2 separate regions of the Homo sapiens genome follow, and region 2 is linked to region 1. The links come from fine-mapping of genetic effects on gene expression. A gene starts in region 1. The other region holds a variant in brackets. All regions are shown on one strand. Distances are between the middles of the regions. Region 1 holds the start of GRID1 (glutamate ionotropic receptor delta type subunit 1). Region 2 overlaps GRID1 (glutamate ionotropic receptor delta type subunit 1).

The links.
Region 2: its variant is fine-mapped to the expression of GRID1 in testis (GTEx, PIP above 0.99).

What each region holds. Positions count from the first base shown.
Region 1 is chr10:86,363,690-86,369,200 of GRCh38, reverse strand. GRID1 (glutamate ionotropic receptor delta type subunit 1) reads left to right here and starts at 2,406. Exons shown (of 16, transcript NM_017551.3): 1 at 2,406-2,887; 2 at 5,105-5,260. The coding sequence starts at 2,809. RefSeq lists silencers at 1,708-1,917, 2,028-2,417, 2,438-2,487, 2,718-2,917, 2,948-3,097 and an enhancer at 5,298-5,511.
Region 2 is chr10:85,728,501-85,733,500 of GRCh38, reverse strand. It overlaps GRID1 (glutamate ionotropic receptor delta type subunit 1), which reads left to right. Exons shown (of 16, transcript NM_017551.3): 9 at 3,887-3,988. Among named protein-coding and RNA genes, the nearest start is that of GRID1-AS2, 87 kb to the right of the region's middle. The variant T/C (reference allele first, on the strand shown) is at 2,408.

The DNA of each region.
Region 1 (5,511 bases):
AGGAACAGGAGCTGAGCAAGTGCCTACAGTCACCACGCTGCCTACAGTGTCCAGGGGATTCTAGCCTGGATAGGAAAACTGGCTTGGCTGAGTGGACTGTCCCAGGGTGAGGATCTGGGAATGAGCATATGGGGATGGCAGACTACCACACGCCCTGGAAGCTGGAGAGGAAGGAGGCACCCAGGACAGAAGGTGAGGTTGCCCCAGGTCAACAACTTCCAGATGAGATCCACCTTGAGTCATGATCCTCAGATGCCAAGCCACAGGAACCTCATCACCCACCTCATCATCCAAACTGGAACTTGATGGAAATCATTCCACAACTATGTGTTGGTGGGTTGTCTTCTTAATACTTGGAAGGAGGTCTTAATACTTATCCCACTGAAATCATGCTACCTACACCTAGCAAAACATACATCAAAGAAAAACTTCTAACTGGGTATATCACATGCCCACTGTACTAACACACTGGAGAACCCCCAACAACAGGAGGCCCGGGGAGAGTCCCTGACCCACAGGGACTTCAGGTCAAGACCACACCCACCATCCTTTCAAGGTGGAGACAGTCCCCGTAGGAACCAAACTGATGTATAATAAAACTCATCATTTATTTCTCTTCTCCCTACAGCATTTCAGCCAGTGAATGGTAGAATTTTGCAGGAATAAGAATTAGAGGTGTAGAGGGTTTTGAGATGCGGGGTGGGTCAGGTTTCACTACTCAAGGACCCTAAGACAGGTTTTTGGAAGAAGTGTGTGTGTGTGTGTGTGTGTGTGTGTGTGTGTGTGTAGGACCACATTCAGCCACTCCCATGGGCAAGTATGACATATGACCACTCCTCTCTTCTTGCCCCCTGGCCTCCTTAACCTAGAAGTCACCTTGCTGGCTCATGGGATTCCTTGATACTTCTGCAATCCAGCTTCTCCGCTCCAACAGGCTGTCCCTGCCCAGCTGAGCTGGCCCACCCAGGGTTCCCTCACAGTGCTATGGGCCTCCACTGGCCCCCTCTGCACAGCCCATCCTCTCCAATCTTTCTTTCCAAAGTGAAATCTACCAATGCTTACTCTTTGGCTCTGGCCACATGAGAGACAGACAGACATACAGACACACACTTCTTTCTTTTTGCCTTGGCTCACCACTATTCAATGCCTGGAAGCCTTATTTTCTCCCTTGGGAACCTCCACTCAGTCTTTACAACTGTCATCTCCTCCAGGAAGTCATCCCTGCTCTTCTTCCCAGGCTGGTTCAGAGCCCAGGCATCTGAGCATACACAGCTCATTCATAGCCCCCCCCAACATTTAAAAGATGACTTGGTTGGGTGTCTGCCTCGCCCACTGCGCTGGGAGCTCTGGGCAAGGGCTGTGGTGGGAGCCTCTCCCCCTGGTGCGTGGCGGGAGTCCTGGGGCCCCTCCGCGGACAACAGGGCCCGGGGACGTTCCCAGGCTTGCTGGAGGAGCAGCTTTTGAACGAGGCTCTGCCAGGTCCCAGACCCCAGGAAGCTCAGCTGTCTCCTCGAAATCTTGGGGGTGCCACATGGAGCCCAGTCCCTTTCAGGCACGAGCCCACAACAGCTTAACGCTCTCTTTGGTGGTGGCCGGCCCGAGGCAGGCACCGGAGGCGGAGGGAGCCCTGTTCCGCTGTGGCCGCGAGGAGCGGGCTCTTCGCCCGGGCTCGCACATGAAAGCTCCGTGCAGGGTCGGAGTCTGAGCCCGCCGGCCGCTTGGAAGGCTCCTCACGTCCAGGCGCCGCGGTCACGGCTGCGCTGGTTTCCGGCCATGAATTGGGCTTCAGAGTCCGAGCCTCTTGCCCGACTCCCGGCTGAGCGCGCTGCCCATGGAGCGGGGGATGGGCGCCCGCCGAGGTCCGCGCGGCCAGCCAGGGTTCGAGCCCACGGCCCGGGCTCTACTCTGAGATGCTTGCGGCGGCCGGCCCCCTCTGGCTCCCCAGCTGTCCTGGGGCCTGGCCCGGCGCCCCGCCCCGGTCTCTCTTCTTGCTCCCCAGGTCCCACTCCACGAGGAACGGTCTGTTTCGGCCGGGGACATGACCCGAGACGCGCGGCTGCTGAGGTCGCCAGGGCGCTTCGGGAGCCCCTCGAGGGCAGTTAGCGGCCGGCCCTCCTCCATTCTCCCGCCCCTGGCGAACCGGAGAAGGAGGCCCGAACCGTCAGAGCTCGGCGCGCCGCAGCCCAGGCCGGTCCCCGCCGCTGTGCCGGTCTCCGAGCGTCCCCCGAGCCGGGAGCGTGGAGCACCCGGCGCCCCCTCCGAGCCGCGAGCGGGCGAGAGCCGCGCGGCGAGGCTGAGGCTCCGCAGTCACGTGGTAGAGAGGCGGGCGGAGGGGAGGGAGGCGGGCAGGGAGGGGAGGGGGAGCGGAGCTGAGGGGGAGGGGGAGGGGAGGGGGCGTCCTCCGCAGTTCGCTCCTCGCCGGGGCTCAGACACACAGCCAGCCCAGAGCCGCCACGCCGGCCCGGCCGCCGCCGCCACCGCCTCAGCCTCCCCCGAAGCCGCTCTAGCCGCGGGAAGCGCCGCTGCCACAGCCGCGGGCCGCCCCCGCCGCGCCGGCCTGGGCTCAAGCTGCCAGCACCGCCGCAGCCGCCACCGGAGCCGGAGCGGGAGCCCGACCGCGCTGGGCTGGGCTGGGCTGGGCTGGGGCGGGCGCAGGGCGCAGGGGCGGGCGCGCGGGGGAAGACGCACGGGCGGGCTCGGCTCTCCCGGGGAGCGGCCCGGGACTGCACCGGGACCAGCGCCTCCCCGCTTCGCGCTGCCCTCGGCCTCGCCCCGGGCCCGGGTGGATGAGCCGCGCGCCCGGGGGACATGGAAGCGCTGACGCTGTGGCTTCTCCCCTGGATATGCCAGTGCGTGTCGGTGCGGGCCGACTCCATCATCCACATCGGTAAGCGCGGCTGGAGGCCGGGCCGAGGCTGGGCGGGGGCCCCAACGGGGCAGGGGGTGCGCGGCGTCCAAACTTGGCGTTTCCCTGGGCCGAGGGGCTCGGCGGGCGGTGCTCCCCCGAAGGGCCGCGCCGCGCCGCCCGGCGGAGGAGCTGTGCACCGGCCGCGCCGCGCTCCCGCTGGCTGCTTGCCGCTCCCCGGGGCTCCGATCTCCGCGCGGGGCCCCGCGGCCTCTACCGACACTTAGGGCCGACGCTTCGGGGAACACCGGGATGGACGCGCGTCGAGACCCGCGCCCTTAGCGGGGCCGTCGGCGGGTCGGGAGGGCCCTTCTGCGCAGCTCAGAGCAGCGGGGGGCAGGGGGAGGTACAGCGGGGGGCTCGCCAAGTTGGCAGGGCAAGATCAAAGAGGCCGGACCGGAACCGTGTGTGAATGTGTGTGGGTGCGTGTTGTCAGCGTGTGTCGCTGTGTGCGCCTGGCACGGTGTCGGTGTTACTGTGAGAGGGTGTTGGGGTGTGTGGGGCCATCTGAGCGTGTGTTGGTGCGTGCACGACTGTCTGTCAGCCTGTTAGAGTGGACACAGTGTCTGCCTGCTTCTCCGGTGTGTGTCTGTGTAGCCCTTGGTGTATGTGTGAGTGCGTGTGTATCTGGTTGTGGCGACTGCATCCCCATCCTGGACAGTCCTAGAGTTTTGCGTGGTCCAAGTCTTGGGGGCCCAGACGGTCTGGGTGGTGGGAGCCGAGGGAAGAAGCGTGGGCAGCGGGGGGTAGGGGGATGCTGAGCGGGAAGAGATGGATAGAGAGAGAGAACCGGGAGAGAAGATGAAAGCGCAGAGGAGGAGGGGGCGCGCCGAGGGGGAGTGGGCGCGCCGAGGGGGAGTGGGTGGGAGTTGGGAGCAACACGGGAGGAATCTCGGGAAGTTGGGCCGAGTTGGGGGGCTGACAGCGGTCGCTTTGGGGGAGTCCCTCCGCAGTCGTCTTTCCGGAAGTTGGGAAAGACCAGCGAGCACAGGGAAACTGGGGGTTGGGAGGTGTTGAAGGCGAGGAGGACGGGACAAGGCGGGAGGGTGGGTGGTGGAGTGGGGTGGTGAGGACTAGGCCTGGGCTCGGAGAGCTACGATTCCTCCTCAGGGGCCCGTGACCAAACCTGCTTCCCGCCCTGGAGGGGTGCGGGTCTCGCGGTCAGCATTGCGGCGCCGGCTCCGGGTGTAGTGAGGAATCCGGGCCTCCCTCCTCCTACCCAGCCCCCAGCTCGAGGGATCACTGGGCCTAGCTCCGGGACCTCAGGGACCCTCGAGGCTTGGTGAGGCGGGATGTGGGTGGCTGACTCCAGAGCTGTCCAGGTTGCAGGACTAGGCTCGGGCTGGTCGCACTGATCTCGGCTGGAAGCGCAGGGTCCGTGGAAGCTGTGCTAGGCGCACAAAGCGCCAGCCGGAGGGCGCCCTGGAGGAGCTGTCCGCGGTTCTAGAAAGCCCTTCAAGAGCAGCTCCTTCTGGGACCCCCAGCTCCGCTAGATCTGAACGTGGAGGCGCCTAGGACACAAGTCCCCTTCCCCCACTCCCCTCGACAGACGTACAGGAAATGGGAGTGGGGAAGGATGGAGAGTAGGAGGCTGAGCTCAGGGCGCCAGGCCGGGCAGCGTCACAGTCATCCAAGCTGCAGGCCATCCGAAGCCCCTGCCTAAGGAAGACCCCTCTGCGCAGGAAAGCCAACTGTAGACCTGCTTCGCTCAGCTCCACTCAGCAGGGGACGTGCATGGAGAAGGACCCATCATTCTGTCCTGGGATTTGGGTGGGGGACACCACCCTCCCGGGGAACTTCCTGGCTCCTGGGATGGGATTTATGGAACCATGTCAAGGCATTTGGGCGCTGCCTGGGGCCACCCCAGCTTGGCTTAGTCCCTTGTGTGGAGCATGGCTAGGACATGTGGTGCCTTGGTTGTGAGACACGTGTGTGACCTGGTGGCAGCCTGTGGGATGTGCATGTGTAACTCATGTCAACTGTGTGCACGTGTGCGCTGAGGGCTGGTGGGGGGAGGGGAACATATTCCTGTGCAGGTGGAGATCGGAGAGCCTTAATCTACCCCGCCAAGCTGAAATCCCAGTTCAGACTTCCCACCACCCGGCAATCATCGGTCTGCGAGTGCCTTGACCCTCGGGCCAAGGGAAGCGGGGAGAGGGTTCTTGTCCAGGTCCGGTCTTGATCCCTTCTCTCCTCCAGGTGCCATCTTCGAGGAGAACGCGGCCAAGGACGACAGGGTGTTCCAGTTGGCGGTATCCGACCTGAGCCTCAACGATGACATCCTGCAGAGCGAGAAGATCACCTACTCCATCAAGGTCATCGAGGCCAACAACCCATTCCAGGCTGTGCAGGAAGGTGAGTGACCGCTGTGCCCAGGGCCCACTGGGACACGGCCTGCGAGGCGTCGCAGCAGTGGGCACCGGAGGGGTTGGGACGAGCTGGGCTGCGCAGGGCACCCTCTGTTCCTCGGCAGCCGCGGTGCCATGCGCGGTGGCGCGCCTTCCCCGGCCCACCTAGGCAGCGGCGCCGGGACTGCTCTGCGCTGCGGGCCGGCACGGAGAGCCTGCGAGCGCGGGGAGCTGGTGTTCTTGCGGGTTGCGTGGCGC
Region 2 (5,000 bases), 640 kb after region 1:
GTAAGTGGTGACAACAATTAGAACATAGGTCTACTGACTCATGAACATCTGCTAAGTTCACACCTCCAAGTTCCCATCTTCTTCTCCAGTTACAGAAGTTAATGTTGGAGAGGAGAGCCTGGAATTCGAGGCAAGGTTGGAGATCCTGAGATGGGAATGAGCAAGGCCAGGTCTAGCCCAAGAGCCTGAGGCTCTAGACAGCTTATGAAGACAGAGTTTTGACCCCAGAGAACATGGCAAGAAACCCCAATGCCACAGCTGACTCACTGACTTATGCCAAGAGTAGAAGGAACTGGAGGTCCTTCTATTTCATTTCTATTGCAGATTTGCATAAATCATGGATATTGGGCTGAACATTCATTAGTTGTGATAAATGTGTCATTCTAATGTTATGTCTTAATGGGAAAAACTGGCTTATGGATCTATTGACATTCTGTGTACAATATCTACAACTTTTCTGTAAATCTAAAACTATTCTAAAGTGAAATCTTATTTCAACAAACAAGTAAGAGTTTACCAGACCCAGAAGAGGAGAAAGGGCATTCCAGGCAGAGAAAAACTAGATACAAATATCAGGAGGGAATGTGGTGTGCCTGAGAAAGAAGGAGGGATTTTGGGGATTTTAGTGTACTGTAACTACATAAACTAAAGTGAGGTTGAGAGTCAGGATTGGCTCTGGATGAGGAAGGCTTTTCTTTTAGGCCAAGCTGAAAAGTCTTAGGATTTATTCTGTAAGAAAAAGGAATTCATTAGAATATTTTAATTAATATAGTTCATATTTGAGTTTATTTGTTGTAAGGGTACCCACTTGCCTGTTGAAGGATGTGCTATAAGAGAGGCTGAGAGCAGCGAAACCAATGAGAAAGCTGTTGCAAAGGTCTAGGGGGACTGAGGTGGTGCATCCTGGAGCCAAGCAGTGAGCCAGAAGCAGAGAATGATGTTCAGGGCTTCATCCCAACTGTTTCTTCCTGCCTCCATCCTCCATTCTAATTTCTGATTATAATCCCAGTAGAAAGACAGGTAAAGCCTTGTTGATCAAGATGCACAGAGCTCCATTCCAAACACTCATCCAAGCCAAGACAGTAGAGAATTAAGATGCCCCTTCACCGTACCAGGAAGGTTTGGCAGCAGATGTTACGAATCTGGGTCCTGGTGCAGGATAAGAGTATTGAGTGCCTGGAATGGTCACATCATCATTAGGACAAGATGTCTTCTGTTATGACTCTGTGAGCCATTGGGATGGTCAAGAAGACCTCTATAACTCCACCTACACCCAGGAGAAGTAGCAGGACACACATCAGGGCTAAGCAGCTCCAGCACCTGGGCTAAGCAGTTATGGGAGTGCAGATGCAGGCACCCCAAATAAATATCCACTCCTGCCCCAGTGAGTCCATAGTAGAACATCCAAAGAATAGAGGCAATCAACCCCTTGACCCCATTTGTCTGAATTTGTCCTCTTCCCTCTGACAAGCATTTTAATCCAGCTGTAGGAACCAATTCTGTATCTTAATGCAATTTCTTCCTTTCCTTTCCTTTTTCCTTTTTCCTTTCCCTTCCCTTCCCTTCTCTCTCTCTCTTTCTTTCTTTCTCTTTCTTTCTCCCTCCCTCCCTACCTCCCTTTCTTTATCCCTTCCTCCCTCCCTTTCTTCCTCCCTCCCTCCCTCCCTTCCTTCCTTCCTTCTTCTTCTTTTTTTTTTTTTTGTCAGGGTCTCACTCTGTTGCCCAGGCTGGAGTGCAGTGGCACAATTGTGGCTCCCTGCAGTCTTGACCTCCTGGTCTCAATTGATCCTCCTACCTCAGCCTCCCAAATAGCTGGGACTACAGGAGTATGCCACCACACTGGCTAATTTATTTTTATTTTTTATAGAGGCAGTATTTCACCACATTGCCCAGGCTGGTTTTGAACTCCTGGACTCAAGCGATCCACCCACCTTGGCCTCCCGAAATGCTGGGATTGCAGGCATAAGCCACAGCTCTCAGCCTATTTTTTAAGGTCCAATGGAGAAATAGCCATGATTTTTGCTTTTTTTTTTTTTAACTGTATCATTACCCAAAGTGTGGTATTTTGGTATCTTCGAGGTCTTTAAGCAGAATTTTGGGTAGATCTTCACTTGTTCTTTATCTCAATGCCCCCAAATTAATTAGTGGTGGTGGCGGTGGGTGGTTCTTTGGGGTACATGGCCATGTTTTTTACTAATTTATTTATTCATCACACCAAGGCACCCTATTATTCAGGATGGAGTGGGTCTTGGTGGGTATCATGTCCAAGGTGACAACAGGAAATTCCAGGTTTCTTTAAAACTGACTCTAGAACTCCATCTCTTATTCTGATGGTTTTACATCTCAGAGTTGTTGTCTCTTCCAGGAGGAATGACTCCTCAGGTTCTATGGCCTTATAGTCAGGGCT[T/C]AGTGTGCAGACCCTGCTGCAGATGTCAGGACCATGGGAAATGCTGACAGAGTAGAAGCATTCTTTACTTTAGGGCCCCCAGTAGCACTTTTCCACTGGAGTTCTTCTTCTCTTCAGGTTAACTAGGGGGTCTTATGGATTTTCCCTGACAACAGTATATACTGCCTGTGGCAGTTTGACCCTTTAGCCCCCTGCTATTTAAATTGTGGTCCATGGATTAGCAGCAGCAGCAGCAGCATCACCTGGGAGCTTGTTAGACATGAATAATCTCAGGCCCCAGAATCAGAAAGTGCATACAAAATCCCTGGGTGATTTGTGTGGATATCATAGTTTGAGCATCATGGCTTTAATCTACAGCAGTGGTTCACAATTCTGGCTGTGCATTAGAATCACCTGGGGAGCTAAAATATCCATCTCTAGTCCACTACAGACCAATTAAATAAGAGGCTCTGGGGGTAAGGCCCAACTTTCAGTACACTTCATTATAAAGCCCCCTTAAAAGATACTAATATGCAGCCAAGTTGGAGGCCCAGTGACCTAGAAGAGCAGGGGTTCTCGACATTGGCTGCAGTATCAGGAGCACTCAGGAGGCATTAACACTTCCTATGCTCAGGCCCTGAGATCCTGATTTAGTTGACTTGAGATGGGGCTGGGTATCTGCATTTTGTTATGTCTTCCCCATTAATAGTCGAGAATCGTTTCCCAGACAAAAGTTTTGTCGTTGTATAGACCCTGCAAGGATGCAGGGAGGGGAAGCAGTCTCATGAACAACTGTGTCTCCTCATTGTTTCTGAGCCAAGGTAGGTTCTCCTTGACCACCTTAGGGTGACTATCAGAGATGCCTCTGGCTATTGGATATACTCTGCAGGCTTAAGAGAATGTAGCAGATTCAGAGCACATTTACTCTGCCATTAGCCTCTACCTGCCTGTCAAGGAAAATGAGGGAGCTGGCACCACAGTGAAAACAGGCAGGAAGCTCTTGACCCTGCTTGCCATAGGCACCGGGGTGCAAGACAAGCTGTACACTTGAGTGTTTGCTACTTGCTTTACTGCTGAGCTTCATCCTACCCATGGAGGGAGCAATGGCTGAACTCAAGGGCCTTGTGGCCTGGGCAAGTCAAAGGAGTAATTAAAGAAAGAGGGTATTTTGCAGGCATCACAGTGACATGGCCTCTGTGGGTGAACAGAATAAAACTGGACATAAACATTTGTTCTAGAGACAAGTTCTCACCAGTTGGTTTCATTTTAGGGCTGTGCTGAGCTCTATAGAGATCCAGGCGAGCTGAAGGAGGACATGTAACTCTGTCTACCATATATCTATTCTCTTTAGGGTTTTAAAATGGCTCTGGGTCTCTGGGAACTCCAGGGGACTACTGTTCACCTACCTGCCTAATTCAGGATCCCAGTGTAGGAGCCGAGGTCCTATGGTGTGCACGGGTGCCAGTTCCATCCCTCACAATCTTTATTTTTCCTTCACAGTTGGCGACATGGGACTCAGAGAAGGGCTTGAATGGCAGCTTGCAAGAGAGGCCCATGGGCAGCCGCCTCCAAGGATTGACTCTTAAAGTGGTGACTGTCTTGGTAGGATCATGGGGACATTCTGGGAGCGAGCTACACCATCCAGGCTGTTGAATCAGAGGCTGCTTTCTGTTTAATGCTGGGTTTGGGGAGAAGAGAATCTTGAGGAGTATTGTGAGCTTTCATAAGGCCTTTCATTCAAATAATTGTATGAATAATGAAAGGAAGAGTGAGATTGAAGTTTCTGCCCCAGGACCTCTGTGCCTTCCAAAGGAAGTCCCTGAGCTGCTCTAGAAAAGGACTTCTCATTCACAGCTTCCTCTGAGGACCAGAGGGGGCCAAGCTGCTCCATTTGTTCTTGGATGTAAAATGGATCTTGACCCACTACTGGTCCTTAGGAGAGTTGTTCTGGTAGCCAGAACCCCAAGATAGATGCTGGAGGAGGACATTCTCTTAGCACCCAACACCAGTGATGGGCTCATGTGACAGTGACACAAGTTCAGAATGAAGACCATTCGGTAGTTGCAACTTTTCTGCATGGATGTCCTGGAATCATAGACTTTTGCATTTGTAAGAGACTTTAAAAGCATCTTCCTTTCAATTGCTTTTTTCACATTTTTATAAAAACTGCAGGAGACATTATAGACTTGCCTCTTATTGGCTGAGTCACACGTGCCCAAACGTCCCCTCTCTCCCAGCAGACACTAGCATTCCCTTGGCTTAGAAACCTTTGGCAACAGTATTTCTGCATTCTCTGTTTGCACACCACAGATAAGCTTTACACCCTATTTCCCAACACAACTAAATTAATGAGCTATACTCCCTGGAGCTGTTTGCCAAAGGCCCCTTGTTCAGTTTCACACAAGAAGGAAGGGGAATGGTAGGGAGTGCCAAGACATTTTTCAGATGACCACCTCGCTCACATGTGGCATAGCACAACATGTGCAGGTGTGAGCATGGCATGGCTTTGAACTAGGAACTCTGGGTTTGAATTCTGTCCTACCCTTTGGCTTCTGGTCTGGCCTTGGTCAGTTAATCCATATCCATATCCACTTTCTAGTATAGCCTGTAGATA